Linked DNA regions of Homo sapiens. The protein of the gene in region 2 purifies or fractionates together with the protein of the main gene of each other region. This does not show direct contact. Each region holds a gene or a part of one and is shown on either strand. Other genes may lie near its edges. The genes, in order: COLEC12, CLEC12A, SOX13 and VTI1B.

Evidence for each region.
Region 1: the proteins of CLEC12A (region 2) and COLEC12 purify together in Homo sapiens (affinity purification with mass spectrometry; 3 studies listed by BioGRID and IntAct, with this or other methods). This does not show direct contact.
Region 3: the proteins of CLEC12A (region 2) and SOX13 purify together in Homo sapiens (affinity purification with mass spectrometry; 3 studies listed by BioGRID and IntAct, with this or other methods). This does not show direct contact.
Region 4: the proteins of CLEC12A (region 2) and VTI1B purify together in Homo sapiens (affinity purification with mass spectrometry; 3 studies listed by BioGRID and IntAct, with this or other methods). This does not show direct contact.

Annotation. Positions count from the first base shown.
Region 1 is NC_000018.10:329,625-336,892, forward strand, and holds part of COLEC12 (collectin-12), read right to left. Parts: intron 5,607-7,268; coding exon 5,118-5,606; intron 3,520-5,117; coding exon 3,383-3,519; intron 2,154-3,382; coding exon 2,044-2,153; intron 1-2,043. UniProt on the Homo sapiens protein: Scavenger receptor that displays several functions associated with host defense. Promotes binding and phagocytosis of Gram-positive, Gram-negative bacteria and yeast.
Region 2 is NC_000012.12:9,967,262-9,974,603, reverse strand, and holds the start of CLEC12A (C-type lectin domain family 12 member A), read right to left. Parts: upstream 3,196-7,342; 5' UTR 3,028-3,195; coding exon of another isoform or gene 3,008-3,027; coding exon 2,917-3,007; intron 1-2,916. UniProt on the Homo sapiens protein: Myeloid inhibitory C-type lectin receptor that acts as a negative regulator of myeloid cell activation. Myeloid cell inhibition is required to limit proinflammatory pathways and protect against excessive inflammation.
Region 3 is NC_000001.11:204,110,946-204,118,213, forward strand, and holds part of SOX13 (transcription factor SOX-13), read left to right. Parts: intron 1-1,969; 5' UTR 1,970-1,970; coding exon 1,971-2,189; intron 2,190-3,375; coding exon 3,376-3,487; intron 3,488-3,573; coding exon 3,574-3,660; intron 3,661-5,561; coding exon 5,562-5,734; intron 5,735-6,176; coding exon 6,177-6,245; intron 6,246-6,647; coding exon 6,648-6,762; intron 6,763-7,268. UniProt on the Homo sapiens protein: Transcription factor that binds to DNA at the consensus sequence 5'-AACAAT-3'. Binds to the proximal promoter region of the myelin protein MPZ gene, and may thereby be involved in the differentiation of oligodendroglia in the developing spinal tube.
Region 4 is NC_000014.9:67,671,401-67,678,477, forward strand, and holds the start of VTI1B (vesicle transport through interaction with t-SNAREs homolog 1B), read right to left. Parts: upstream 3,233-7,077; 5' UTR 3,090-3,232; coding exon 2,975-3,089; intron 1-2,974. Other genes in the region: RDH11 (retinol dehydrogenase 11), read right to left, coding at 6,921-7,023. UniProt on the Homo sapiens protein: V-SNARE that mediates vesicle transport pathways through interactions with t-SNAREs on the target membrane. These interactions are proposed to mediate aspects of the specificity of vesicle trafficking and to promote fusion of the lipid bilayers.

The DNA.
Region 1 (7,268 bases), on a different chromosome or scaffold from region 2:
CCTCTCCCCAGGACAGGCGCAGAGGAGCCGACGAGTCTCTGACAGGCCTGCAGCAGATATCCACTTGCCCTTAAGGGCAGTCTGAGGCTCACCTTCAGAGCAGACCTAAAATCTTCTAATGTTCCAAATCAATATTTCGCCACATGTTTATTTTTTATAAAGAGCTGGCCTGGCTAGGTGCGGTGGCTCATACCTCTGATCCCAGTGCTTTGCGAGGCCAAGGTGGGAGGATCACTTGAGGCTAGGAGTTTGAGACCAACCAGAGCAACATAGTGGACCACGTCTATCCAAAAACTTTAAAAATTAGCCGGGTGTGGTGATGTGCACCTGTGATTCCAGGGACTTGGGAGTCTGAGGTGGGAGGATCGCTTGAGCTGGGGAGATAAGAGGCTGCAGTGAGCCATGATCGTGCCACTGCCCTTCAGCCTGGGCAACAGAGTGAGACCTTGTCCCTTAAAAACAAACAAATAAAAACAAAAGAGAGATGGCCTTATTCTGGTTTCCTCCTTTATCCTCTGATCCTACTCACATGGAGAATTTGAAAGTACAAAAGAGCCTGTTTATCCAAATGCACATGCACACGCACATAGGGACATTTAAAAAACTCGATCTGGCTTCTCCATCACCTCTGACCCTCCTCCCTGCTGCTCAGCTGATACAGGGCTAGGCCTCCATGCCCATGAGACTCTCTTAGGCCTGAAACACCCTTGTTTTCTCCTCTCCTGGGACAGCCCCAGAGGCCACACCGTGGACTTTGCCTAGTGCTCTCAGAAGGTGCTTCCAATGCGGTGATGCTCCTGTGCCTGGTGGAGCCCTGCAGGGTCTGGCCTCTCCGTCCCCAGCAAACTAAAGGTTACTCAGAGGGTTTTTTTTTTTTTTAATTTTATTTTTTTTATAAATTCTGCTTCATTTGTTACAGTTCCTTGCAATTTTCACACCCGTCAGAGGCAAAGCCAGAGTATGGAGATGTGATAATCAAACTGATGCAATACAGTCATTGTTAGATCTTTGGGTAGAATTAGGGAAGGAGCTAACACCCCCTAGGGTAGGATGAGGCCCTGGAGACTTCTAGGTTATCCAAGAAGGTACCTCAAAGTGATTCTATTCTTTGTTGCTCCTTTCATAGAACTTAGGTCACATGGAACTTATGGGGAATCTTCAAACCTCTAGGGGATGGTTATCCCGCAAATGCAACTTTGTTTATAGTGTATTTTAACTTACTATGAGTAGGAAAATCACACATTTGTAGTTTTTTTTTTTTTTTTTCTTTTTTGAGATAGAGTCTTGCTCTGTGGCCCAGGCTGGAGTGCAGTGGCGCCATCTCGGCTTGCTACAACCTCCGCCTCCTGGGTTTAAGCAATTCTTCTGCCTCAGCCTCCCGAGTAGCTGGCATCACCCGCATGCGCCACCATATCCGGCTAATTTTTGTTTTTTTTGTTTTTTTAGTAGAGACGAGGTTTCACCATGTTGGCCAGGCTGGTCTCGAACTCCAGACTTCAAGTGATCCGCACACCTCAGCCTCCCAAAGTGCCGGGATTACAGGCGTGAGCCACTGTGCCCAGCCAGGAAAATTACTCATTTGTAGTTTCTAATCACACTCTGCCTAGAAGCCCAACTAGGGGTCAGGGGCACCCACAGTGTGATCCTGAAGGGAGCTCCCCAGTCCTTGGAAACACGCCTGGGGCGAACGCTGAACATGCCTGAGGTTGCCTGGGCTTCATCATCTTTTCCCATAGCATTTAAAGAAAATGACTTGGCCAGAAGTATTATGCTGTGTGGTTTTATGAGTTTCATGATTTTTTTCTTAGAAATGAAAAAAAATTCACTCCATGAAAAGAAGAAAGGAAAGCCTTATTTGACAGCGTATCAACTGTCAACCACGATTTCCCCAGGGGAAATATGCAACTGGTACCAGGAGCCCCGGTTTGGGAGGAGCGTCTAGGACACGAGGTCATTAAGGAAGAAACTGTTGGGAGTCGGGCAAGAAGTGACAACAGAACAGTGAGAGCCTGACCACCAATCTGGAAGCTTCTGAGTACTTACTTGTAGTCTGGAGATGTCCCATCCAGCCACTTCCATTCATTTTCACGCTCTGAGTCTGTGAGGCCGATCCAGTGGCTCTCTCTCCCTACCATCTGTTTTTTTATCCATTGCTGAAAAACAAAGCAGGGGTGGTGCGTGACTATTTTTCAGAACAGATGTCTCAGGCCTTTTTCTTTTATTTAACATTTAGAAAAAAGGACAATTTAAAAGAGGATGGTTGTCAGAATGTGTAGCCTGCTTTTGCTTTCTGCTTTTTTCTTGCTACTTGCTTTGTTTTGTGCTGTTTGGGGGGCTTTGACTTTTTTCCTCTTACAAGTTTACAACGGATGTTAAAGTGAGGCTCTTCCTCTAAATCACTCAGACAACCCAGTGAATGTCCATTGGTCCCACTTCCTCCTACCACCCACCCATTTCTCCCATGTCCTAATCATAGGAATAGTCATGATATTCTTGGGCACTTCCTCTGGGCTGGGCCCCACGTGCAGTGTGTTGCACGCAGTGTGTCTCCAAGCTTTTATAACAACCCACTGAACAAACATGAGAAGTAGCTGAGCTGGGCTTGGGCCCTGGTCTGTGTATTCTAAAGCCCAGGTGCTTGGTCACTGTCTGCCGTGTGCTCATTCCAGTCAGTTACTACAGGAAACATCTGTTTACAGGATTGTGTCTGCTGGAGATAACTTAGGGAGAAGGGAGGAGGCCACTGGAATTGGTGTGGTATCAAAGAAAGCGCTGCATTGTTGCTAGATGGGCTGCAGTTTTGGTCTCAGTCTGCATAAACCTTGCCGGGCCTCAGTTTTCCTAGCCGTCAAATGAGGGTAATAATAATACCTATGTTCTAGGGTTGCTGTGAGGTTCAAGGGAGCAAATGCCTCTCACGGTGCCTGGCATATAGAGGGTCTAATGAGTGGACACTAGCATTAGCATGCGTGGGCTCTGCCTCCTCAGCCTTCTTCGCTCTTCCTGACTCCTCTGGAGCCATGCGTGGTCCCTTGCACCCCACTCCATCCCTACAGTGTTCATGCCTCTCTCTGTCCCCACAGGTGCCTGGTGGCAGCCCTCAAGCTTCTCTGCATTATAATTATTTCAACAGCCACCAGAAGGAGCCACACATCTCCAGGCTTGATAGGCAATATCTTCCAGGAAGAATCATGAAGATACAATTCCAATGCCACGAATGCTTCTAGCCACTGGATGAAACCCAAATCTCTGTAATGTTGCCTCCCATGTTTACGTGACTAGGAATTCGTGATATCTCTGAATCCCCAACAAGCCTGCAATTTCCAGATGTAAACTATCCTTAAATTATAGTTTTCCCCAACCAAGTATGTGGCAGGCATACCTGTTCCTCTCTAGTGTTTATGAAAACAAGATGTGAAGACTTGTCTTCACAGAAAAGCTTTGCATCCTCAAAAATTTCTTTCTCAACTGAAAAATAGTAGCATTTGTCTGTGAAGTTCTTCCAGTGAGGCGGGCAGCCTAGGAATGCAAAAGTGGAAAACATTGATTAAAAGATCACAGAAAGCACTCTGCCTTTCTTCAGCTGTGTTTCAGAGGCCAAAACTGTGGTCCCGCTGGGAGCAGCCTGAGCGTCCCTGCACGAGGCCCACAGCTGACGTTCACGGACGTGCTCGCAGCAAGCATGACCCAAAGTGGACTGCAGAGCACAAGCCAAAACCACATAATCTGGAAAAGATCTTTGACTGGGTCTTTGTTCTTCTGTGTCTGGATCCGTCTTCACAATGACAGAAATAACAGAAGCAACAACAAGAAGCAGGGCAGGCACAGATGTTCAGCGTCAGTCTGGAATCATACGGAACCCAGGAACACTTGGATGTGAGAACCCAGCACCAAAACTGGGCTCACGGATCAACAAAAATAACCCGGGCCTCACCGACCAAAATCAAGTAGAATAGCGGTTGGGTCAAAGGAGAGAAAAATAGGCTTGGTTGCTAACCAAACATTCGAGTTTTGCCAAAGGTTTAATTATCAAAAGACTAGAAGGCACCGTAACATCTAACACCTTTCTCAAAAAGAAATTAAATGTAGTCATCAATAGCAGAGGGTTCCATCCACATGTTGATGGAGCTAACCGAGGGAGCCCATCTATCTCCAGAGTGAGGATGTAAAACGAGGGAAGAGCGCTCAGGGCGGCCAGCAGGCTTCCCTGAAGGAAATGTTTTGCATTGTGTTTGTCTTCTGAGGGCTGGCTCCTATAAATAAACAAGTGCAAGAGCCAGGTGCAGTGGCTCCCACCTGGAATCCCAGCACTTTGCAAGACTGAGGCAGGAGGGTTGCTTGAGGCCAGGAGTTCAAGACCAGCCTGGGCAACATAGCAAGACCCTGTCTCTACAAAAAGGAAAATAAAAAATTAGCCAGGTGTGGTGGCATACCCCTGTGGTCCCAGCTACGCAGGAGTCTGAGTGGGAAGATCACCTAAGCCCAGGAGGTCAAAGCTGCAGTGAGCTATGTTTGCACTACTTCACTTCGTCATTCCAGCCTGGGTGACAGAGTGAGACCCTGTCCCATACATACACACATAATACATAAAACAAATGAGCACTAGAGAACCCAATGGCGTTTAGAGAGAAACACATGCCTGGTATGGAGGCCTGTTCTGGCAGCAGGGCTCCTGTGCCAGCCCCTATGATGCCTTTGCTGTTAAATAATATGCAGCGGGGGACAAGACGTGGTGGCTCACACCTGTAATCCCAGCACTTTGGGAGACTAAGGTAGGTGGATCACTTGAGGCCAGGAGTTTGAGACCAGCCTGGCCAACACGGTGAAACCCCCTCTCTACTAAAAATACAAAAATTAGCTGGCTGTGGGGGCACACGCTTGTAGTCCCAGCTACCTGGGAGGCTAAGGCAGGAGAATCACTTGAACCCGGGATGTGGAGGTTGCAGTGAGCCGAGATCACGCCACTGCACTCCAGCCTGGGCAACAGAGTGAGACCCTGTCTCAAAACAAAAACAAAAACAAAAATAACATGGGTGGGGCCACACACTGGGGGTTGGCTCAGTCTCAAGCACATGCACTGCCCTGTCCCCCTGGCTGGAGGGAGGGCTTGGACTTACCATTGTCCTCCGGTGCTGGGGTTGGCTCATTCTGCAGGGCCAGGGGCACCACCGCTCCTGATGGGCCAGGAGGGCCGGGGGGGCCCTTGGGGCCTGGCATGCCTGGTACCCCAGGCAAGCCTGGCAGTCCCCGAGGTCCAGGCACCCCAGGCTCCCCAACGGTGCCCTGAAGTCCCTGGAAGCCAGGAGGGCCCTGAGGGCCGGGGAGTCCCTCTTTGCCTGGTGGGCCCGGGGGGCCTGGGTCCCCACTGGAGCCCTGAGGGCCGGGCTTCCCAGGGGAACCACGGGAGCCTTTGGGGCCCTGGGAGCCTTTAGATCCTTTGCCGCCACGCTCTCCGGGGGGACCAGCTGGTCCAATTGGGCCTCTCTCACCCGCAGGGCCAGGTGGTCCAGGCTCCCCCTTCTCTCCTTTCTGTCCCTTGTTGCCAGTTGGGCCAGGGGGTCCCTGGGATCCTCTGTCACCTCTTGGACCCCTGGGGCCCGGTGGACCTAAAGCATAAAAGAAAAAGGTGTCAACATGAAATCCACTGTGAATGATAGTTATGAATAATTTTTCTTCTTATAAAATCTCCAAATTAAAAAAACCTAGCATACAAAGTATATACAGCAGGGAAAGACCATCTGTTTATCATACTACTGTAGACTGTTATGGGCTAAATTATGTCCTCCTCCAAATTCTTATGCTGAAGTCCTAACCCCCAGCACCTCAGGATGGGACTTATTAAGAGACACGGCCTTTACAGAGGTCATCGAGTTAAAACGAGGTGACATGAGTGACCCTAATCCAATAGGACTGGTGTACTTAAAGAAGAGGGGATTAGGTCACAGACACATAGAGGAAAGATCGCTTGAGGGCACAGGGAGAAGATGGACTCCTGCAAACCAAGGAGGGAGGCCTCGGAGGAAACAACACTGCTGACACCTTGATCTTGGACTTGCGGCCTCCAGAACCGTAAGGAAAGAAATGTCTGTTGTTTAAGCCTCCCAGTCCGTGTACTGTGTACTGTGTATATGGCAGCCCAAGCAAGCCAATATACTGTGTGTTCTTCAGTAAGCTCACCCTTCTTCTTCAAGCTTTTAGAATGTATTGTAACAGTGCACAACGTTTTAGTGCCCCACTGATGTCCTTCATGGTGACACTGACAGCCAGGGGCTTATTCTTCACAGTGACTCACATGATTAAACTGGGTTCTCTTAGTCACCTGGGCCTGTGTTGTCATCAGCAGGAAAGTTGTGTAGACCAGGATCAGGATTTCCTCTTACTTATTTCCTCTTGTCCTTAATTTGGTAAATATTTATTAAAGGCTTATATGACAAGCACCGTGTTAAGGTATTGTGGGATAAAGAACTGAAGGAGATTGATGTATTAATTCTCTCCCCATAACCAAGCCTATAACTTCCCTGTAAGCTTCCTCTCTGTTGTACCCCAGCTGGCATGCCTGTGCTGTCCACCAAAGCTGTGGGGGTGCTGCTGTCCTTAGGGCTGGGCCTCACTCACCCATGGGCCAGCTCAGAGGGACGGGAGGTCTCTGTGGGAAAGCCTGGTGGGACTTTGCTGCCCATTGTGGACAGGTGTCCAAACTCTCTGGGTGGGTTTGTAAGTCTAATAATACACATAAGGAAGGTAGGCTAGAGAAAAAAGGTATGTGGACCATCTAATTGGGAAGAAAAGCGAATACTGCTCATCCCCATTATCCCACAAAGAGGCCCATGTAACACAGGATTGTTTTTCTTTCTTTAATTTCTCAGGGGTAACAGGAAATTTCACACAAATAATCTCCTACCAGGAACTGTATAGTGAATGACAATTTTCAGGGTACTTTCACATACATTATGCCACCTGACCTTGCCTGTGCGGTAGAATTCTCATTGCATAAATGAGGACATGTAGGGCCAGAGATGCCAAACTATTTGTTCGAGGATACTTAGCTACTAGGAACAGATACCAAGGAGAGTAAGACATGGTCAGTCACAATCTAGTAGTGGAGCTGGGGCATGAACTCAGGTCTTCTGATGTTGAAATGAATGAATCTTAGAGTTTCTGAAATCTCACAATTCTGCATGAATAAGTAAAAGGCCACACTTAATCTCTCTCTCTCTTTTTTTAGAGACAGAGTCTCACTCTTTTTTTTTAGAGACAGTCTCACTCTG
Region 2 (7,342 bases):
ATATATATTTATATGTGTATTTAATGAGATGAGGCTGTCTGGAGAGAGAGACAATTTTAGAAGAAAAATAAATATTACTATTTTTGACATTTTAAGTTTAAAATGAGATTAGAACTCCTTATGGAAATGTGAAAGTGGCACATGTATTTTCTAGTCTTGAGATTCAGGGAAAGGTCATACAGAGATATTGGGGAGTCACTCTATTTAAAGTCAAACAACTGAATGAGGTAGATTAGAAGAGTGTACTGAGTGATGCAATAAAACGGGACCCAGGACAGGGCTTCAGAGTATTCCATCTTGTAGAGTTTCATCTAGGAGGAGGAATCAACAAAGAATGAGGAGAGGCAGGCATGGTGACAGGAGAAGCCATGAGGATGTGTCAGGAGGGATGTGCAAAGAAAGCATTTAGAGGACTGTTCAACTTTTTCAATGCTGCAGGGAAGTGAAGTAATGGAAGAGACATGTGACTATTGGGATGAAACAGGCAGGACATCAGTGACCTAAAGCTCAGTCTCTATGGCACCAAGGGGGCAGAAGCCTAATAGAGTTGGTTGAGAACAGAATGAGAGGTGAAGAACTGAGAGTCAGTGGCCAAAGAAAATGCTTTCAAAAGTTGAGTTGTGAAAGGAAACAAAGAAGTTAAATAATAATGGAAAGGCTTAAGTGGTCAAGCAAGGATTGTGTTTTGTTATAAAAGGAGTAGCAGAGTATATTGGTGAGTAGTAGAGTATGTTGGTGCACCAAAAAGGAAAAGCAGAGAAGGAAGAGAGAATAATGACACAGGAGAGAAAGGAAAAAATTACGGAAGTCTGTCTTTGAAAACGACACATGGACTGAAATTCAGAGCAAAATGAGGAGCCGTCCCTTCATAAGTACATACTTATCGTAAATACTATCTGGAAGGAAAGCAGAGTATCAGTAAGGACATGGTAGGATAGACATTTAAATAACAACAAAAAAAAGTGTAGATGGATGCTTTTTTCTTACCAGAGGAAAGGTGAGAGTAACTGGGGTTGAAAATTTGTGTATTTTTCACCAGCAATATTCAACTCTGGGGCAGACTGGGTGGATATTCGGGTTTAACCAGAACTGGAGTTGTTTTTATTTGTTTGTTTTTGGGGTTTTTGTCTTGTTTTGTTTTGATTTGTTTGAGGCAGGATCTTGCTGTGTCACCCAGACTGGAGTACACTCGCCTGATCTTAGCTTACTAGAGCCTCCAACTCCTGGACTCAAGTAATCCTCTTTCCTCAGCCTCCCAAGCAGCTGAGACTATGGGTGCCCAGTTAATTAAAAAAATTTTTTTTTTATAGACATGGCATATCTCTACTTTCCCCAGGCTGGTCTCAAACTTCTGGCCTCAAATAATCCTCCCATCTTGGCCTCTCAAAGTGCTAGGACTATGGGTATGAGCCACTGCACCTAGCCAGAGCTGGAGTTTTTAAGGAAAAATTAACACACATTGAAGAGGAGAAGTGTAAGAGACTAAGAGTAGACATTACATAATACAATGTTATATTACATAATGTAGATTCTAAGCTCGATAATGAGAAAATTAGATGAGATTAAGAACATGAAGAAGACATGGATTCAATATTTCCGTGAATTCAGGGAATTCTTGTGGTGGGAACTTAAGGTGGATTGGCAGGAAAAGAGGTGGGAAAGGGTGTGAGAGGACAAGTAAAGGGCAATTGTTGGTAATATTAGGCTCATGATATGCCCATTCTCTTTCAGTGTATAAAAGAAGAAATATAAACAAGGAAATAAAGACAGAAAATATTGTAAAATTCTTAAACCCTTCTTCTTTCTAAAAAAAAATTTCAGTATTAAAAAAGAAGCCAACAGAATTAATCTGCTATCCTTTCTCAAGATTTACAATGCTCATCATAAATGGATCCAAGATGTAACAGTGAAATTTCTGTTTATAGCAATGCTAGAATATTAAAGATGTTATATTCTGTGTGGGGAGAGGAGAGAGGACAACAACTTAAATAATATGTGAGAATTTTGGCACTCTTCTCTCCTTATTTTTCTGTTTCTATCACCCTTCTTTGTGTTCTCCACTATCACTGTTTAAGTTATTTTTAACTCAAATACACTGATTTAAACTATGGATTCGCTAGGGCAGATTTCACTCCCAAAAGGCTAGGAGCCAGAAGGCAAGAACCATACATAATAGGAAAACTATAGGATTCTGAGTAAGATGAAGAGTAGTTTTGTTTAAGTGAAAGTCAACACAGATGGACCACTTATTTCATGATTTTAATTTGAATTGAAAAATACAAAGTTACTTGATATAATGTGGTTTTGAATATTATGAATATATTATGTCTTCTGATATTTCTTTACCTCTTTTCTTCCTTTATTCCTTAATGATTCATTTCATTTAACTTAACATGTTTTATTTTTTAGTAAGTTAGTAAAAAATCTCCAAAAGAAGTAGGAGAAATTTTAGGGTGATTTATGCTTAGTTTGGTAGATAGTCAAATGAAATCCTATAAAGGTCTCTCTGTCTGACACAAAGCATTTTCTTATAAAAAAAAAAACACACACACACACACACATATGAAATCATGACTTTCCTGAACATGTTTCTTTTTCCATGGCTTCATCTCATAAAGAAATAAAATCTTCATACAACCCAATCATTTGAAAAATTCTGTCCCAATTATATTGAGTGTGATAATAAAAAATTTCAAAAATGTAAAAGATTGATTATTCAATGCAGAGATAAGTGTTTTTACAAAACCCTTTTTTCTAATCATTTTGTTCATACACTTTTTGTTCCTTTGCTTAAACATAAGAGACTTAATTGAAAATTTAAGTTGAATAGTAACTATATCACTAATATTGAAGATGCAAGTCTATAACCACTTCTATTATACAAACTTACAACACATCCATAACTCAAAATCTTACCTTTTTCCCCAAATTTGCCAATTTCTGGGATTTTTTCCATCTCACTGGAGTTCTGGAATTGAAGATCTGCATAAGTAACTTCTTCAGACATTGATGAATATGTAAAGAAATCTTGACAAAGTGTAAAAACACAAAAAGATGAGTGAGTTAACAGAGCTGAATGTTAAACAGGACCTATAATTTTAAACTTCTGTTTATAAACGGAAGCTTAAGCTTACAAGTTTAAACTTCTGTTTATAAACCTACTGTACCAATCACCCATATGTCTGCAAATGAGCCAAATCTCATCTGTGGCTTCAGTTAAGAACATTGAACTGTTGCAACAGATAACATCTTTCTTCCTCATATTTCTTCCTTTTTCTCAATTTCTATATATTTACCAACTACAGAAAGTAGTTTTTGAAATTGTGTTTGGATAACATCATCAGTGTCATGCAAGAGAACACAAATAACTAGCACCACATGGTGCAGACATAGTGTAGGATTTATTGGTGAAAAACTTTCAAGCAGAAAAATAACAGAAAAGATGCAGTTCTCAGACACTCACTAATCTGCAGCTGTGGCCTGGCATAGATATTCCTTTTGTATGATGATGAAGGTCCTGATAGAAGGGTTCTCTTCACTGGGAGACTGAACATACAGAGAGCACTCCCAAGGAGAATGAGACAGTTAGTGTCATTCCGTTGCCATGTTACATAGCTATAGGTTTGCCTAAGAGAGGTAGGGAATGCCTAGTTTCTCTAAATAACAATATATAGGTTGGTGCTAAAGTAATTCTGGTTTTTGCCATTAAAAGCAAAAGTAATTGTGGTTTTTGCCATTAAAAGTTTACAAAATTACTTTAGCGCCAACCTATATATTAAGGGATCTGATGCCCAGAAACCACACCAGAGAGTATGCATACTGATGGCCAAGGTCTGTATACTGAGGGCTCTGGAAACAGCTTTGCAGGCCAGGAAAACTATAATCAGCCTTGCTATCTCTCTACAGACTGACTCAACCATTTGATCTCCTCCTCAGCTAAGCTATCAAAAGTGGGAGGGAAATGAGTCTCCAAAGTCCAGATTTGTGTCTTATTAGTTTGACTCAATAGTCTTAGTATTTTTTATTTCACTTCTTGATCAAGAATGCAAGTGGAAGTGAGGGGGTGGAGAGGACTGTTTTTGAGCATGTTCTCTAATATTCGTTAGTAAATCTTACTTTAAAATTCTTCTTGACATTGCCACATGTAAATCATAAAATGGTTAGGTATTATTATTATACATATGAAAGAGAATGCATAAATATTTTTAAAAATCAATTAAAAACTAATTGCTTTATTATGTCAGGATAGACAGGAAAAACAAAATGCTCCCTTTATAAGAGCTACTAAAAATAAATAGGAAAATATTACAGATAGAAATTAACTAGATATTTGCATAACCAAAATGAACAAAAAAATTTTAAAACTATTGAAGAAAAGAAAAAAATAGAAAAACATGCTGTGGGATTAGAAGCGTCAATACTGTATAAAAAGAAACTAAATTCTCCTAAATGTATCAAAAATTCAATGTCAATTTAATTAAAACAACTGATTTTCTCCTGATAAAGAAAAAGCTATTGAATACATTTGAAAATATTACCATGAAAATATTGGCAGCCACATTTAAAGGAAAATATATTCAAAACATGATTACTTCATCCTAAGTACTTTACTAATGTTGCTTTTATCTTTACAACTCTCTAAACCAGGTGCTATTATTATCACCCTTATTTTACAGATGCGGAAGTGAGTTGCAAAGTGGTTAAGTTTGTATCCAACATCACACAGTTGGTGAGTGGTAGAGTTGAGACCATCAAAGTCTCTGGTTGCCTTGTTCAAATATGTGCACAGGCTATAAGGCCTCTCCTGGTGGGAAAGAGTAGCCCTCTATTTTTCCTAGGTGGATCAAATATTTGCATATAAATATTTGTTTATAAATATCTCTTTGTTTGTGAAAGGATGGAAACCGGCCACCACACAGGCAGAGTCCTGTTCTGTGTTCTATTGCTCTGCTGTCTCATGTGGAACGTTGTTTCATCAATCAACACTAGAAGATGAAGCGTATATGACGAACTGTAAAGGGAAACAAATGAAAAATCTCAAAGTCCTGTTTGCAAGGTACTCTATTTTGTTGAAAATATTTGAATAAGTATTACTTCATACAAAATCCTTGGTTTAGAGCCAGCTAAAACATTTATATCCACAAGAATAAGCTGAGCTCTGAGATGACTACATGGTTTGCCCTTCACAGCCTATATCAGTTTTTTAAAAATTTTGTTATTGATACAAAATAGTTGTATGTATTTTGGAGGTACATGTGATATTTTGAAACCTGTATACAATGTGTAATGACCAAATCAGGGTAATAAGAATATTCATTCCGTCAAACACTTACCTTTTCCTTCTGTTGGGAATAGTACATTTCTTCTCTTTTAGCTATTTTGAAATATACAATAAATTATTGTCAACTATAGTTTTCCCACTGTACTATCAAATACTAGAATTTGTTCCTTCTATCTAATTTTATTTTTGTACCCAACCAACTTATCTTTATCCCCCACCACCCCTTTCTAAGCCTCTGGTAACCACAATTCTACTCTCTGCTTCCATGAGATTCATTCTTTTAGCTCTCACATATGAGTGGAAACATGTGATATTTGTCTTTCTGTGCCTGGCTTATTTCAGTTAACATAATGACCTTCAGTTCCACTCCTGTTTCTGCAAATGACAGGATTTCATTTCCTTCTATGGCCAAATAATATTCCATTGTGTATATATACTATAGATACCTGCACTCCCATGTTTATTGCAGCACTATTTGCAATAGACAAGATATGAAATCAACCTATATCAATTTTCATTCTAGTTGAATACTAAGAGACAATCTGCAAATATAATTACAGATGTCTTCCAATATTAAACATAAGTGATACATTATCCATTACCTAAATTATATATTTTTTGTGGGTTGTTATTGTCAGGCCTCTGAGCCCAAGCTAAGCCATCATATGCCTGTGTATATGCCTATGACCTGCATGTACACATCCAGATGGCCGGTTCCTGCGTTAACTGATGACATTCCACCACAAAAGAAGTGAAAATGGCCTGTTCCTGCCTTAACTGATGACATTATCTTCTGAAATTCCTTCTCCTGGCTCATCTTGGCTCAAAAGCTCCCCTATTGAGCACCTTGTTACCCCCACTCCTGCCCGCCAGAGAACAACCCCCCTTTGATGTAATTTTCCTTTACCTACCCAAATCTTATAAAACAGCCCCACCCCATCTCCCTTCGCTGACTCTCTTTGCAGACTCAGCCCACCTGCACCCAGGTGAAATAAACAGCCTTGTTGCTCACACAAAGCCTGTTTTGTGGTCTCTTCACACGGATGCGAGTGAAATTTGGTGCTGTGACTCGGATCAGGGGACCTCCCTTGGGAGATCAATCCCCTGTCCTCCTGCTCTTTATTCCATGAGAAAGATCCACCTATGACCTCTGGTCCTCAGACCAACTAGCCCAAGGAACATCTCACCAATTTTAAATCCAGTAAGTGGCCTCTTTTTACTCTCTTCTCCAACCTCTCTCACTATCCCTCAACCTCTTTCTCCTTTCAATCTTGGCATCACCCTTCAATCTCTCTCTTAATTTCAGTTCCTTTCCTTTTCTGACAGAGATGAAGGAGACGCGTTTTATTCATAGACCCAAAACTCCGGCACCAGTCACGGAATTGGGAAGACAGTCTTCCCTTTGGAATCAGGCAGGGATGCCTGCCTGATTATTCACCCATGTTTCAGAGGTGTCTGACCATGTGGGGACACCTGCCTTGGTCCTTCACCCTTAGCGACAAGTACTGCTTTTCTTGGGAGCAAGAACCCCCAACCCCTTCTCTCCGTGTCTCTACTCCTTCTCTGCTTTTCTGGGGGGCAAGAACCCCACCGCTTTTCTCCATGTCTCTACCCCTTCTCCGCTTTTCTGGGGGGCAAGAACCCCCCAACCCCTTCTCCTTCACCCTTAGCGGCAAGTACCGCTCTTCTTGGGGGCAAGAACCCCCAACCCCTTCTCTCCATGTCTCTACTCTCTCTTCTCTCTGGGCTTGCCTCCTTCACTATGGGCAAGCTTCCGCCCTCCATTCCCCCTTCTTCTCCCTTAGCCTGTGCTCTTAAAAACCTAAAACCTCTTCAATTCACAGCTGACCTAAAACCTAAATGCCTTATTTTCTTCTGCAATGCCACTTGACCCCAATACAAACTCGACAGTAGTTCCACATAGCCAGAAAATGTCACTTTCCATTTTTCCATCCTACAAGATCTAAATAATTCTTGTTGTAAAATAGGCAAACGGTCTGAGGTGCCTGACGTCCAGGCATTCTTTTACACATTGGTCCCTCCCTAGTCTCTGTTCCCAAT
Region 3 (7,268 bases), on a different chromosome or scaffold from region 2:
ACTAGTGCATATCAAAATCACCTGGAGGTCTTGTTAAACCTGATCCCTGGCCTAACTCCCAGAGATTCTGATTTGTGGGAGGGACTTATGACTTTGCCTCTCAAACAAGCCCCCAAGGCATGCTGAAGCTGCTGGTCCTTATACTGCATTCCAACTAGTAGTGGTTTAACAAACACCAGATCATGTGATGTTATTTGGAAATGTGATAAACAAGGAAACAACAAAACACCAGATCGGTGCTTACTGGTGCCACAAACTATTCTAAGTACCATATAAATATCAACTCCTAGTCCTCACGGCCATCCTATAGTGTAGAGACTCTTACCATGCTCATTTTACAGATGAGGAAACTTGAAGTACAGAGCAGCTAAGCAACTTGCCCTAGGTCACTTGGCTAGTCAGTAGCTGAGGCAGGACCCATGCATAGCTGGAACCTGCTGTGTTCCCACTAGAACCCAGAGCGCATCTCTGTGACTTTGGAGGATAGGCATCTGCTGCTCCGCCCAAGCCTGGCATGACCCCTGGAAACCACTCCCTGAGATGCTGCGATTGCTCAGCTCCTCAGATGTCCCAGGCAGTGATGTGACAGGAAAGGAACAGCAGGTGCAGAGTCTCAAGAGGGTCTGCCAGGTATACCAGCTGCTTAAACTAGGAACTGCAAACTCAGATGCCTATGGTGGCCAGACTCTGAGAGATTCTAGCTAGATACCGGAAAATATTTTTCGTAAAGCCAATCATCTCAGTCTGTTATTCCCCCCACCCCCGCCCTTTATTTTTTTAAAGAGATGGGAGTCTCATTAGGTTGTCCAGACTGGCCTCAAACACCTGACCTCAAGTGATGTGCCTTCCTCAGCCTCTTGAGTAACTGGGATTACAGGCATGAACCACCATACCCGGCTATTTCCCCCCGTGTGATAGATGCATGAAGCAAGAAATCATTTACTTTTACCTTATCTCCACTGTAAGAAGAAGACTATATGTCTTATATATAGAAGAATATATGTCTTATATAGTTAATACTTGGTTTCCTTTTTGAGGAGTAGTAGGAGTGTAGAGGCTAAAGTAGACTGGCCTGTCCATAAGAAATACCCATTACTCAATTCCAGCCAATTTTTACCACAAAAACAATTGAGCTAGAAGTTCAAATCTAGATTTTTATGTGTTATCTCTTGATTTTTAAGTATTGGTAACTAATTATAAAAATGCATTTGTAGGCTGGGCGTGGTGGCTTACGCCTGTAATTCCAGCACTTTGGGAGGCTGAGGCGGGCAGATCACCTGAGGTCAGAAGTTGGAGACCAGCTTGGCCAACATGGCAAAACCCCATATCTACTAAAAATACAAATATTAGTTGGGGGTGGTGGCGTGTGCCTGTAATTCCAGCTACTCGGGAGGCTGAGGCAGGAGAATCACTTGAACCTGGGAGGCGGAGGTTGCAGTGAGCCGAGATCGTGCCCTTGCACTCCAGCCTAGGTGACAGAGTGAGACTCTGTCTCAAAAAAAAAAAAATGCATTTGTATACATACAAACATGCACAGACACATGCACACATGCGTGCACACACACACACACACACACACACACTTTCTCTCTCTCGCTGTCGCTCTCCAACTCTGTTGGGCTCAGAAACAGCCAGTCAGTATCTGGCCTCGTTAGTTGGGCCGTCAGTCCACTAGTCCCGTAGTCCCAAGCATTACACAGGCAGCTGCTGCGCAAGGGTAGGCCCACTCTTCTCTAGAACTTTTTGTTTAAAAAGCAAAAAACAAAACAAAAAAGCATGAGGGATACAAGAGGCTTTGCTGATTTTTCTGTGGGTTCACAAGTAAGCTTGCCCTTTCTGTGAGTGTGCCCATGTGACAGGCACCAGGAGGCACTTGGGTGGGGTCAGGGGAGCAAACAGTAGGGTCACTGCCTCTGGGCAGAAGTTTACGACTGGGGACTCACCTCAGCTCACTCTGTCCCTCCCCCAGGATGTCCATGAGGAGCCCCATCTCTGCCCAGCTGGCCCTGGATGGCGTTGGCACCATGGTGAACTGCACCATCAAGTCAGAGGAGAAGAAAGAGCCTTGCCACGAGGCCCCCCAGGGCTCAGCCACTGCCGCTGAACCTCAGCCTGGAGACCCAGCCCGGGCCTCCCAGGATAGTGCTGACCCCCAAGCTCCAGCCCAGGGGAATTTCAGGGGCTCCTGGGTCAGTGTCCCCGCCCTGCCTCCATCCTCACACCCATGCGCTGTACCTGGGCTCTCTGCTCGGCTGGGCAGGCCCACTCCCCTAGATGGCAGCAGATACAGGCAGAAGTGGTGATCCTAGGGGTAAGACGCCATGTAGGGAAGCAGGGAGGCACTGCCAAGTTCAGTCTGAGGCTGGAAGCGGGGTCACCTATCAGAGCAGGACCTAGACTCATGCCTGTACTTACTCGCTTGATAGTGACAGTTCACCTATGTGTGACCCAGTCCTTGCTTCTGAGGACTAGATGGGGAGATGGGACACACATGCTAAAGTTTGGCTTTAAAGTAATCTACCAGATTTTTCAGATGATTTGGGAAAATCAACCTGATTACACAAGCAAGAATTAGGTCACTGTTAAAGATGATACGGTTCTTGACCCTTAAAAAAACAAGAGAATTGAGCTGCATGATTCATAAGGATTCTTGCAGCTCCTAAAAATTCTGATTTCACATATGAGATGTAAAAAGGTGATATATAATTAAAATCCAAATAAGTGAAAATGAGGAGAGTTATGGGCTCTAAGAAAGAATCCAGCCTGGAGGAAGGAGGTGGGGGGTGGGGGCACTGGTGATCAAGGAAGGCTTCCTGGAGAAGTAGAGCCTCAAGCTAGGCCTTAAAGGATGGGGAGGACTTTGACGAGAAGAGGAGTGAGGCAGGCAGTGGGGAGTGTGAGTAACTTTTGCCAGCCCCTACCTGCTCCCCTATGCAGCCCAGCTGGTGTAGTGGGTATGTTCAAGGGAGTGATAACTAATAGCTGACTTTTGGCCCCTGATTGTAATGGCAAATCTCATTCACATGCATTAACTCCCTTGATCCCAGCAACAATCCTGTGACAGAGGAGGTATTAATATTTCCATTTTCAAAAGAGGGAAGTCAGGTTCAGAGCATTTCAGGGACTTGTGTGGGATCAAGCATCGTGTGAGTCACTGAGCCTGGACTGAAACCCAGGTCTTTTGTTTTGAAATCTTCTGTTCTTTTCCTAAACAAAGCTTGGGCAGGTGGAGGCCAAAGGGACCTAGTGAGTGGAGAAGTAGGACTTGGATAGGGCTGGGATCCCTCAGGGTACACATCTTTGGGGTGCCCAGCCCTCCCTGCAGCCTGTCCCCTTCTCTTGGGGGTTATGGTGACAATTCAGTATGTCTTGCAGGACTGTAGCTCTCCAGAGGGTAATGGGTCCCCAGAACCCAAGAGACCAGGAGTGTCGGAGGCTGCCTCTGGAAGCCAGGAGAAGCTGGACTTCAACCGAAATTTGAAAGAAGGTAGGATGTCTGCCCTAGTTAGAAGCAGAGGCCTGAGGCAGGGAGGTGTTAAGACGGTTATTCCTCACCCCTTTGCTGTCTTCCAGTGGTGCCAGCCATAGAGAAGCTGTTGTCCAGTGACTGGAAGGAGAGGTTTCTAGGAAGGAACTCTATGGAAGCCAAAGATGTCAAAGGTGAAGGCCTGTTGGGGGTGGGGGAGATGTTTGAACCCCATCTCTCTTCTCCTGGTCTGGCCACGCAGCCTGGCTCTGTAGGGCAGTTCTTGGTACATACCTATCCTGTGCCATCTGGCTCCTGCCTGGCCTTAGGGGTCATCACCATCCCTCGCCTGGAGGCCCCAAGCATTAGGTCTCACTCATCCCATGCAGGAGAGGCCTGGTAGGAATCAAATCCCATGACTCTGAATCTGGGCTCTCACCAGGCACCCTTGTGACTTCAGGCATGTCATTGCCACTTCCCGAGTCTAACCGCAAAATGAGCAGAAAGTTCCCTTTCACTCTAATTAATTCTAGGTCAGTTGGACCTCACTAAGTGAGTGAAAAGTAGTTACTAATGGGCTGCTGCTTGGGTTCCTTAGAGTGATTTTTTTTTTTTTTTAAGATACAGTCTCCCTGTGTCGCCCAGGCTGGAGTGCAGTGGCACAATCTTGGCTCACTGCAGCCTCAACCTCCTGCATGATCCTCCTATCTCAGCCTCCTGAGTAGCTGGGAACACAGGCACCTGCCACCAAGCCAGGCTAATTTTTATATTTTTTTTGTAGAGATGACGTCTTACTATGTTGCCCAGGCTGGTCTCGAACCCCTGGGCCTAAACAGTCCTCCCACCTTGGCATCTCAAATTGCTAGGATTGCAGGCATGAGCCACCCACTGCACCCAGCCAGAATGATCATTTTTGCATTGTCATTGATCACACCCACAGAGGGAACTTTAAAACCGTACAGATGCCCAGGCTCCACCCCCACCTATTGAATGGGAACCCCAGGGTATGGTAGGGGCCTGGGCCTCTATACTTCTCAAAGGATCCATGAGTGATTCCGATGTTGTTTTTTTTTTTTTTTTTAAAAAAAAAAAAAAAAAAAAAGGTCTATGGCCAGGCACTCAGGAATAAACTGCTGCATCAGACAGGAGCTAAACTGGAGGTCAGGGGGACACTAACATTTATTGGTTGAGGACCATGTGCCAGATCCTGGACTAAGAGCTTTGCATATATTAGCGCTTCTTCTTCTTTTTTTTTTTTTTTTTTTTTTTTTGGAGAGAGACAGCTCGCTCTGTTGCCCAGGCTGGAGCGTAGTGGTGTGATTTCGGCTCACTGCAAAGTTCACCTCCTGGGTTCAAGCGATTCTCCTGTCTCAGTCTCCCAAGTAGTTGGGATTACAGGTATGCGCCACCATACCCGGCTAATTTTTGCATTTTTGTAGAGATGGGGTTTTACCATGTTGTTCAGGCTGGTCTCGAACTCCTGACCTCAAGTGATCCACCTGTCTCGGCCTCCCAAAGTGCTGGGATTACAGGCGTGAGCCACCACACCTGGCCTCTATTAGCTCATTTATCCCTCATAGTAACCCTCTGAGGTGATTATTATTATGCCCACTTACCAAGATTTTGAAAACCCTAAAGTGCAGAGAAATTGGTAACTTGCCTAACAGCTCACAGACAGGATGGGTTGAAATGGGAATTTGACCCCAGACCTGTCTTGCTTCAAAGCCTGAGTGTGTCCCACTGGATCCCTCCGATGGGATGGTTGTCCACCCTGACCCTGTGTGGCGCTGAGCACTCGAGGACATTGAAGAGGCCTGGGGCTCTGGGGCTGACATGTCCCACTGTCAGCATTTTCAGGGGGCCTGGAATTCATGGCTAATAGGGGAGAACTTCTAGGCTAGTAGTTGCCAGGTAGCAACATGAAGAGCCCCCTTCAAGGCAAGCATCTTGTGTCATCATCTCTGTGGCTCAGCCCCTAATGGTCCTGGGACATAGCAATTGCTCAATAAGTTTCTGATGGATGGGTGGATAGATGGATGGATGTATAGATGAACAAGTAAAAAGTCTCAATGGGGTCTGTTTCACTGTGGAGCAGGGACCCAAGAGAGCCTAGCAGAGAAGGAGCTCCAGCTTCTGGTCATGATTCACCAGCTGTCCACCCTGCGGGACCAGCTCCTGACAGCCCACTCGGAGCAGAAGAACATGGCTGCCATGCTGTTTGAGAAGCAGCAGCAGCAGATGGAGCTTGCCCGGCAGCAGCAGGAGCAGGTAGGTCCTGTTCGGTGGGTGTAGCTTTCTTTCCAGGAAAAGGAGTGTGTCAGGACCTAGAGAAGGCTGCCTTAGGGACAGGCCTCACCAGTGCAAGCTGGGGCCTGGGGGCAGGCTGGGCAGGGTCTGTGGCCAGGGGCTGTAGGATTCCCACCTGGACTGATTCATGAGCCCTTGTACAGGGTTAGGGGTGGGAGGGTATGAAAGGGACTCTGCAGGAAGAGCAGCTTGCAGCTTCCTGCCCAGCCTCCTGGTCCTGGAGGGAGGGATGAGCTTCCTGCAAAAGGAGAACCAATTCTGAGGGCTGACTGCTTTGCTCCCTACTGCCACCCCACTCCATGGCTTGCCCCACTGTAGAAAGCAGGGTGTGGTTAGGGCTGGGCAGACTGGGCACCAGGGCTAATGTCCGTGACCCCCTCTGCCTACTCTTTCCCTCTCCCAGATTGCAAAGCAGCAGCAGCAGCTGATTCAGCAGCAGCATAAGATCAACCTCCTTCAGCAGCAGATCCAGGTAACCGGAGGGGAGACCCGGAGAGGCACAGGAGGCAGTTGAGGGAGTTGACACCGGCCTGGAGGGTGCTGGGGACAGGGGATGTGCACCAAGTTAAAGAGCCAGAGCAGAATCACTCAGGCCTGACCTGAGGAGGGTTATTTCTATTCTAGCCCCCAACCTGTCTTCCTTCCCTGATTAAAGGGAGGAGCCCGGCATGTCTTCCTCCCCAGCTGAGACCTGAGGGCAGGTAGACAGGGGCCCACAGAGTTGGCCTAGGGTCAAAGGGATCCTTTGGAAAACTGTCCCTGCTTTATCCCCTGTGCCTCTTGTCCATGGGTCCATTCTCTGTGCCATGGGCTGACCATAGCTGGGTAGCTCTTTGGGTCCCTGGGGACTCACACAGGGTTTCTTTGCCTTCAGCAGGTTAACATGCCTTATGTCATGATCCCAGCCTTCCCCCCAAGCCACCAACCTCTGCCTGTCACCCCTGACTCCCAGCTGGCCTTACCCATTCAGCCCATTCCCTGCAAACCAGGTGAGTGTGAGAAGGGAGGTTCCACCACTGCGGCCAGCCTGTCCTGAGGTCAGGGAAAGCGCCCTGGAGCCACTCTCATCCATTAATTTGCTATGTGGACTTTCTGGGCCTCAGTTTTGGATCTGTCTGGTAGAAGAATCATCCTCTTTTTCTGAATCTTGCTGAATTTCTCTGAACTTCACTGGGAGAATGAAAAACCATAAAGCCCTTTCCAGATGTAAAATGATGTAGCAATCCAGGTCTAGTCTCTCCAACTCTAGTACATTTACTGTGTCAGAGTATTAATATCTGGAATATTGCCAGGTGTGGTGGCTCACGCATGTAATCCCAGCACTTTGGGAGGCCGAAGTGGGTGGATCACTTGAGGTCAGGAATTCGAGGCCAGCCTGGCCAACATGGTGAAACCCCATCTTTACTAAAAATACAAAAATTAGCTGGGTGTGGTGGTGCATGCCTGTAGTCCCAGCTACTCAGAAGACTGAGGCAGGAGAATCGCTTGAACCTGG
Region 4 (7,077 bases), on a different chromosome or scaffold from region 2:
CTGTAATCCCAGCTACTCGGAAGGCTGAGGCATGAGAATCACTTGAACCCAGGAGGTGGAGGTTGCAGTGAGCTGAGATTGTACCACTGCACTCCAGCCTGGGCGACAGAGCAAGACTCTATCTCAAAAAAACAAAAAAAAGAAAGAAAAAAGAAAAGAAATTCACATATTTCTGATTGTCCTCTTTGCAGGATGGAGAAAAAGGCTGGGTAGACAACAAAGGTGAATGTAACTATCTTAGCTTTATGTTGCTATAACAGAATAGCTGAGTCTGGGTAATTTATAAAGAAAATAAATGTATTTCTCAGAGTTCTGGAGGCTGGGAAGCCCAAGGCTGAGAGGGCTGATTCTTTCAAGGGCCTTCTTGCTACCCATGGGTCACCCCATGGCAGAAGATGGAAGGGCAACAGATCAAGAGAGCAGGCAAGCAAGAGAGGGCTGAACTAACCCACTCTCTCAACAACCAAGCCACTCTCAGGATAACAATCTAATCTCTGAGGATGGAGCCCTCATGGTCTAATCATTTCTTATGGGTCCCACCTCTTAATGCGATTAAAATAGCAAATAAATGTCAACATAAGTTTTAGAGGGGGACATTCAAACCATAGTAATAATGAATTCAATTTTCTATTTTTCAAAGCAATGTTCTTTTGCATTATTTAGACTTATAGAAATGGGCATTGCAAAAATTAATTCAGTGCCAGGTTGAAAATGCAGTCTACATTTTTTTTTTTTTTTGGGAGAGTCTTGCTCTGTGGTCCAGGCTAGAGTGCAGTGGTGCGATCTTGGCTCACTGCAACCTCCAGCTCCAGGGCCCAAGTGATCCTCCCACCTCAGCCTCCCCAGGAGCTGGGACTACAGGCATGCACCACCATGCCTGGCTAATTTTTTTATTTTTTGTAGAGATGAGGTTTCACCATGTTGCCCAGGCTGGTCTCAAAATCGTTCAACACAGCAATACTCCTGCCTCAGCTTCCCCAAGTGCTGGGATTACAGGTGTGAGCCACCATGCCTGGCCTGCAGTCTACTTTTTTTTCTTTTCTTTTCTTTTTTTTTTTTTTTTGATACAGAGTCTTGATCTGTTGCCCAGGCTGGAGTTCAGTGGCATGATCTCGGCTCACTGCAACCTCCGCCTCCTGGGTTCAAGCAATTCTGCCTCAGCCTCCTGAGTAGCTGGGACTACAGGCAACTGACACCATGCCCGGCTAATTTTTGTATTTTTAGTAGAGATGGGGTTTCACCATATTGGCCAGGCTGGTCTTGAACTCCTGACCTCAAGTGATCCGCCCGCCTCGGCTTCCCCAAGTGCTGGAATTACAGGTGTGAGCCACCGTACCCTGCCTGCAGTCTACTTTTCAATCACATAAATCAGATCCCACAATGCTTCTGCACAGTATCTTTTAACTGCATCCCATCATATTTAGAAAAAGGCACAAGTCTTTCACCATGGTCCACAAGGCCCTACATGATCTGGCCCTGCTTATCGCTCTCCTTTGCTCACTCCATCCCAAACACATGGAACTTCCTGCTCTTCGCTGAACACACCAAGCTCATTTCTGCTTAAAGGCATTTGCAGTGCTATTCCCTCCTTCTGACACTCACTTCTCCCTGATTTCTGGTTTACTCCCTCACTTCATTTAAGTCTCTGTTCAAACGCCATCTCCTCAGAGAGGACTTTCACAACCGCCCTATTTAAAACTGAAGTCCCAAAGAAGGCGGATCACTTGAGGTCAGGAGTTAGAGATCAGCCTGGCCAACATGGCAAAACCCTGTCTCTACTAAAAATACAAAAATAATTAGCTAGGGGTGGTGGCGCAACTGTAATCCCTATTACTCCAGAGGCTGAGGCAGGAGAATTGCTTCAATCTGGGAAGTGGAGGTTGCAGTGAGCCGAGATCGTGCCACTGCACTCCAGCCTGGGTGACAGAGTGAGACCCTGTCTCAAAAAAAAAAATGATAAATAATAAAATAAAACTGAAGTCCCATCCCCTATTCTTTTACTCTGATTTACTTTCCTGTATTCTTTAACACTGCCTCTTAATAGTTATATATTGTTTATCACCTACCCACTAGAATGGGGATGTTCGTATCTTTTTCACTGTAATTTGCAATATTCACCAGCACCTAGAACGGTGCCTCACAATTCACCAGCACCTAGCACACAGCAGCCTCACAATAAATATATATTAAATACATGAATTTCATTCTCACCAGTCATTCAATTCCTATGACCTTGAGTAATTCGTTGAGCAAACACCCAAGCTCTGACTCTTAAATAAAAGCAATAAAACAAAGTTTTGTCCTTGCCATCAAATTCTATATATCCGGAGGCCAAGAACTATAGCAGCTTTTCCTATGGATTTAGGGCCGGAAAACTCTAGCTCCTCCAGACAGAACTTGTAGCAACCTGAATCATGAAATTAAGGGGTAGTAAACAGTCTCAGCTGTAAAAACGTTCAAAACAAGACCACATCTAAATGCCACAATCAGGTTTTAAAGGCCAGCTCTCTACCCTCCAATAACTGGTATTTACCAACACCCCCAAATTATGACTCCTTTGGGTTTTTAACCCTTTTTCTGTGCTACGGATCCTCTGTCAGTCTGGTGAAAACTAGACCTGTCTTGAGACTAGTGCTTTTAAATGCATAAAACAAACAAAAACAGCTATGAAAGAAACCCACTCTACATTACAGGACCGCAGATGCAAAAGCCCCTCTGCTCTATTTGCCACAGTGAAAAAAGATGAGAAAATGTGGAAGGCCATAGAAGGATCCCAGGGAACTGAATCCCGAGGTCCAATTTACTCTCAGTGGCAGCAGGGAGACCTGGGGCTGGGACAAGCCAGCCCTAGGGGGCGTGTCTGAGGACGCGGAGGGAGGAGACGCGGGCCCGGGTCTGGGAGGAAGGTGGGAGAATCTTCCTTCCAAAGCGCGCAGGGCTGCGCTCCCCACGGCGTGGCCCACCCCCGCCTCACCGGTCCCCGCCGTCCCCAGCAGCCGCTCGGGCACCCCTTGTAGGTCTTCATGGAGGCCGCGGAAGATCTCGTGCAGCTTCTCGAAATGCTCCGAGGAGGCGGCGGAGGAGGCCATGGCGCAGGCCGCGCTGGAGCAGCGGCCACCGAGATTCGGGGCCCTGGGCCCTTTCCTAGCCCGGCGGTCAGCCGCCCAGCCCAGTGGCCATAACGGCGACCGCCGCACCACCGCCGCCCAGGACGAGGCTCTTCCGGAGCCGCGGCAGGGTCCTCTCGAGCCGGAACGCCCACCTTCTCCAGCCAGTGATTGCTGGAGCGCCGGCGCGAAAGCCTGACGAGAAGTCGGGAGACTGCGCGGCCTAGGCGACTCCTGAGGGAGCGGTGCCGCGCCGGGGCGATCGGCAGTCGCGGAACCCGAGAAGTGCCGGGTCCGGGTTGGGGAAAGGCCGCAGCGAAAGGGGCCTAGGGGACCTGCGGGACTGGCAGCGCGGCCGCCTTCCTCCCGGGCCCCGCCGGCCGGCGAGGGGCGGGCGCTGCAGTGCACGCCGGGGGATGTAGTTTGGCTCGGACGAGAGCGTCTCGTCCCGGGGTCGCGCGTTGCTCCGGGTGCCAGGTTCAGCCCGCGCGGCGACAGCGGGCTTCGGCCCGATTTGATGTATGTTTGCGTCTAGACGTCGTCCTCACTGTCATCGCGCTTTGCTTTGCCACCCTGACCCGAATTCCTCGTTTCGCGTCTTGACTGTTAGCTTTCGGCCCTGGAAAGATAGCCGGGCCAGGGGCTCTGCCTGCCGTCGGGAGGTGGAGCACTTTTCTTGGAAGGCCCAGCGGCTCCCCAAGCTTTCAGAAGTGGAACCCGGCCGGGCGAGTGGCTCGCGCCTGTAATCCCAGTACTTTGGGAGGCCGAGGTGGGAGGATTGCTTGAACCCAGTAGTTCGAGACCAGCCTGGGCACAATAGCGAGAGCTCTACCAGAAACCCAAAATAAGAACCGGGCATGGTGGCGCGCACTTTTGGCCCCAGCTACCCCCGGAGGCTGAGGTCCCACCACTGCACTCCAGCTTTGGGAGACCTTGCTCCCAAGTGGAGCGAGATCTTGTCTCCAAAAAAACAAAAAACCCAAAAACCAAAAATTCAAAAGTGGAACCCAGTTAGGATGACCTCGAAATACTCTAGCTGCTAGGCCCGAGTAATTCTCCTCGTGGAGACTAATTCTCCTCCTAGGCTGCCTCGTGCACTTGTTGACAACAGGTGTTTGTCAAGCGTAGGCATTGCGAGGGATCTGGGCATGTTGGTGAATAAAACATTTAATCTCTGCTCCAGGGGAATTTATAATCTGGTGTGGAAGGTGGGCCTGGCTTCATTAGGTCTCATCTGCCACTAAGTGTCACGTGTTAAAAATTACAAGGTCCCTTCTTGCACTCCATGGGTATAAATTCCTGTCTTCACGTCGGGCATGGTGGCTCACGCGTCATCCCAGCACTTTGGGAGGCCGAGGCGGGCGGATCACTTCAGGTCAAGAGTTCAAGACCAGCCTGGCCAACATGGTGAAACCCCCGTCTCTGCTAAAAACACAAAAATTAGCCAAGCGTGGTGGTGGGCGCCTGTAACCCCAGCTACTCGGGAGGCTGAGGCAGGAGAATCGCCTGAACCCGGGAGGCAGTGGTTGCAGTGAGCTGAGATCGTGCCACCACACTCCAGCCTGGGTGACAGAGAAGACCCTATCTCAAAAAATTAAAATAAATTATTATTTTCACCGATTTCACGGTTTGCTCAAGGTGTCTGTTCTCAAATGTTTGCTTGGGAGTTCAATTTTAAACTGCCTACAAATATTAAAAGATGTATGACTGCTCAGGAGAAAATGCTTTGCTAATTTGTATCTCCTGGGCCCTCATTTTTATTAGATCAAGTTCATTGGCTGTTGATTCAACACACTTTGGTTAAGCTCTTAATATGCACTGAGCATAGACATGACCAAGTCTGAGGATAGTCAGTATACTGTGTAAGTCCCACAGCACAATGCTGGGACTTGTCACAGTACAGAAATAAGGGGCAGGTGCAAAAAAAGGATCAATAGCCTGGGGCCGGGTGCTGCGGCTCACACCTGTACCCCAGCACTTTGGGAGGCCAAGGTGGGAGGATCGCTTGAGCCCAGAGTTTGAGGCCAGCCTGGGCAACAAAGCAAGACGCTGTCTCTAATTAAAAAGAAAGGAAAAAAAAATGGCCCGGGATGATCAAGAAATGTGGAAAAAGTGTCTGTGAAGAGTGTCAAAAAAGGTTAAGTAGGAAATGGTGAATGAACAATTAGATTATCACACAACCTAAATTAATAGCATGTGGATTGAGATTACACTGTAGCTAGACTCTGGAACAAATTATTCTTTAGAATGAGAAATCATTGCACAACCATAATAATGAACAGTGTTTTCTTCTTTTGACTGTAATCAAACTTTTAATTCTTAGTTTTTATTCTGGTAAATGAAAACAAAAAATAATCAAAAAGAATTTTTATTTGTCATTGACAGTTCAATATAAATTAAGTAAAACATTAATTCATTTATTCTGCACTATTATCAGAATTTTTCTAATTTTTCCGTAAAATGACCATTTCTAAACATATAGCTTAATGGTCAAAACAAGTGCAATAAAAGATTAATTTACAAGTATCAGAAGTGAAGACTGTGGTCCTATAACTCTTTCCCCCACCAAAGTTAAAATATAATTGTCATTCCAGGAAATCAAAATCTTTTAGAATAGCACACTCCAAACAAGTGATGGGAACACTACTAATTCCTTAGACTTCCTTTGGCAGCATTACTTTTGATAAGAAGTCTCCAAATAAAATACAAAATTTTGGCACAGACATTTTAATCTTGTCAAGACAATGTAAGGAAATGCCCCAAAATATTATTAAATTGACCATAATTACCAATATCAGTCCCTAAGATAATTTTTCTGAATGAAGAATTGTTTTTTTTGTTTGTTTGTTTTTAGGATTTTTTTTTTTTTTTTTTTTTTTTTTTTTGCCACACTGGTTTTTGTTAAGACCTCATCAGTCCTGGGTGCTTGCCCTCAATTCCTCCATAGCTATGTTAGCATATTTAATATCTTTTGCTATTAATCCTTAACTAGTTAATCCTTAAAGGGCTAGTTAATCCTTAACTAGTCCCTTCATTTTGTGCATTATCTTCCAGTATTCTCCTTCTCTTTTTTTACTTCTTCCCTGCTACCCATGTGCTCTTGGTGGGTAGTTACCAACATATACAGAATCTGCTTCCCTTTGCAGCATTTCATTTGCATAAAGACTGGATGGCACTGGTTTGCTCCATCTCTGATTATTGTGGCTGTTTTGAACTTTGTGAAAATACTCCCTTGGCACACATAAACAGGAAGACACACAAAGATATACACAATTTTTAGTAGAGGTGGGGTTTCACCATGTTGGCCAGGCTGGTCTTGAACTACTGACCTCCGGTGATCCACCATGCCTGGGCAAGCCCTGCTCCTGAGCCAGTCTTTGTTATTCATGTTAAGCTGAGGTTGCAGTGTGGCCCTCTTGAAGTGAAGACTGGTTGGTTGGGAGGAACTGAATTGTGAACAAAGAAGCTAGTTCAAATTTGCATAAATCATCCCTGCTATAGCTTAGATTCTCCTAGGTAGTAGTTTCTTTCAGAAGGAAAATGAGCTGTGCAGGTCATATGAGGGTCTTCTTATCCTATTATGATATCTCTAGTAACTCTGGCAGTAACAGAAGCAAAGTAAATCTGGACATGACAGACATTTAGACGAATCTGGCAGTACACTGAGTTTTAACTGGACACCAAGCAGGCAAGGCTGGAAGGTTTTGCTCTCTTTGTGCTAAAGGTTTTGAAAACCTTGAAGGAGAATCATTTTGACAAGAAGTACTGTGTAGTCTGCTGCAGTCTTCTCTTGGGTCCAACTGGCACTGCCTGTTAGTCTATTGGGAGGCCCAGCAGGTCACAACTGACGTCCCACAGCCGCCTTGCTATAGTCTCATTACGAGCTTGGGCAGAGACCCATGCCACATGACAGTCACTGGAAGGTAAAGAGAAAGGTATGAAGCACAGTGTTAAGAATGAAGTCTGCCAT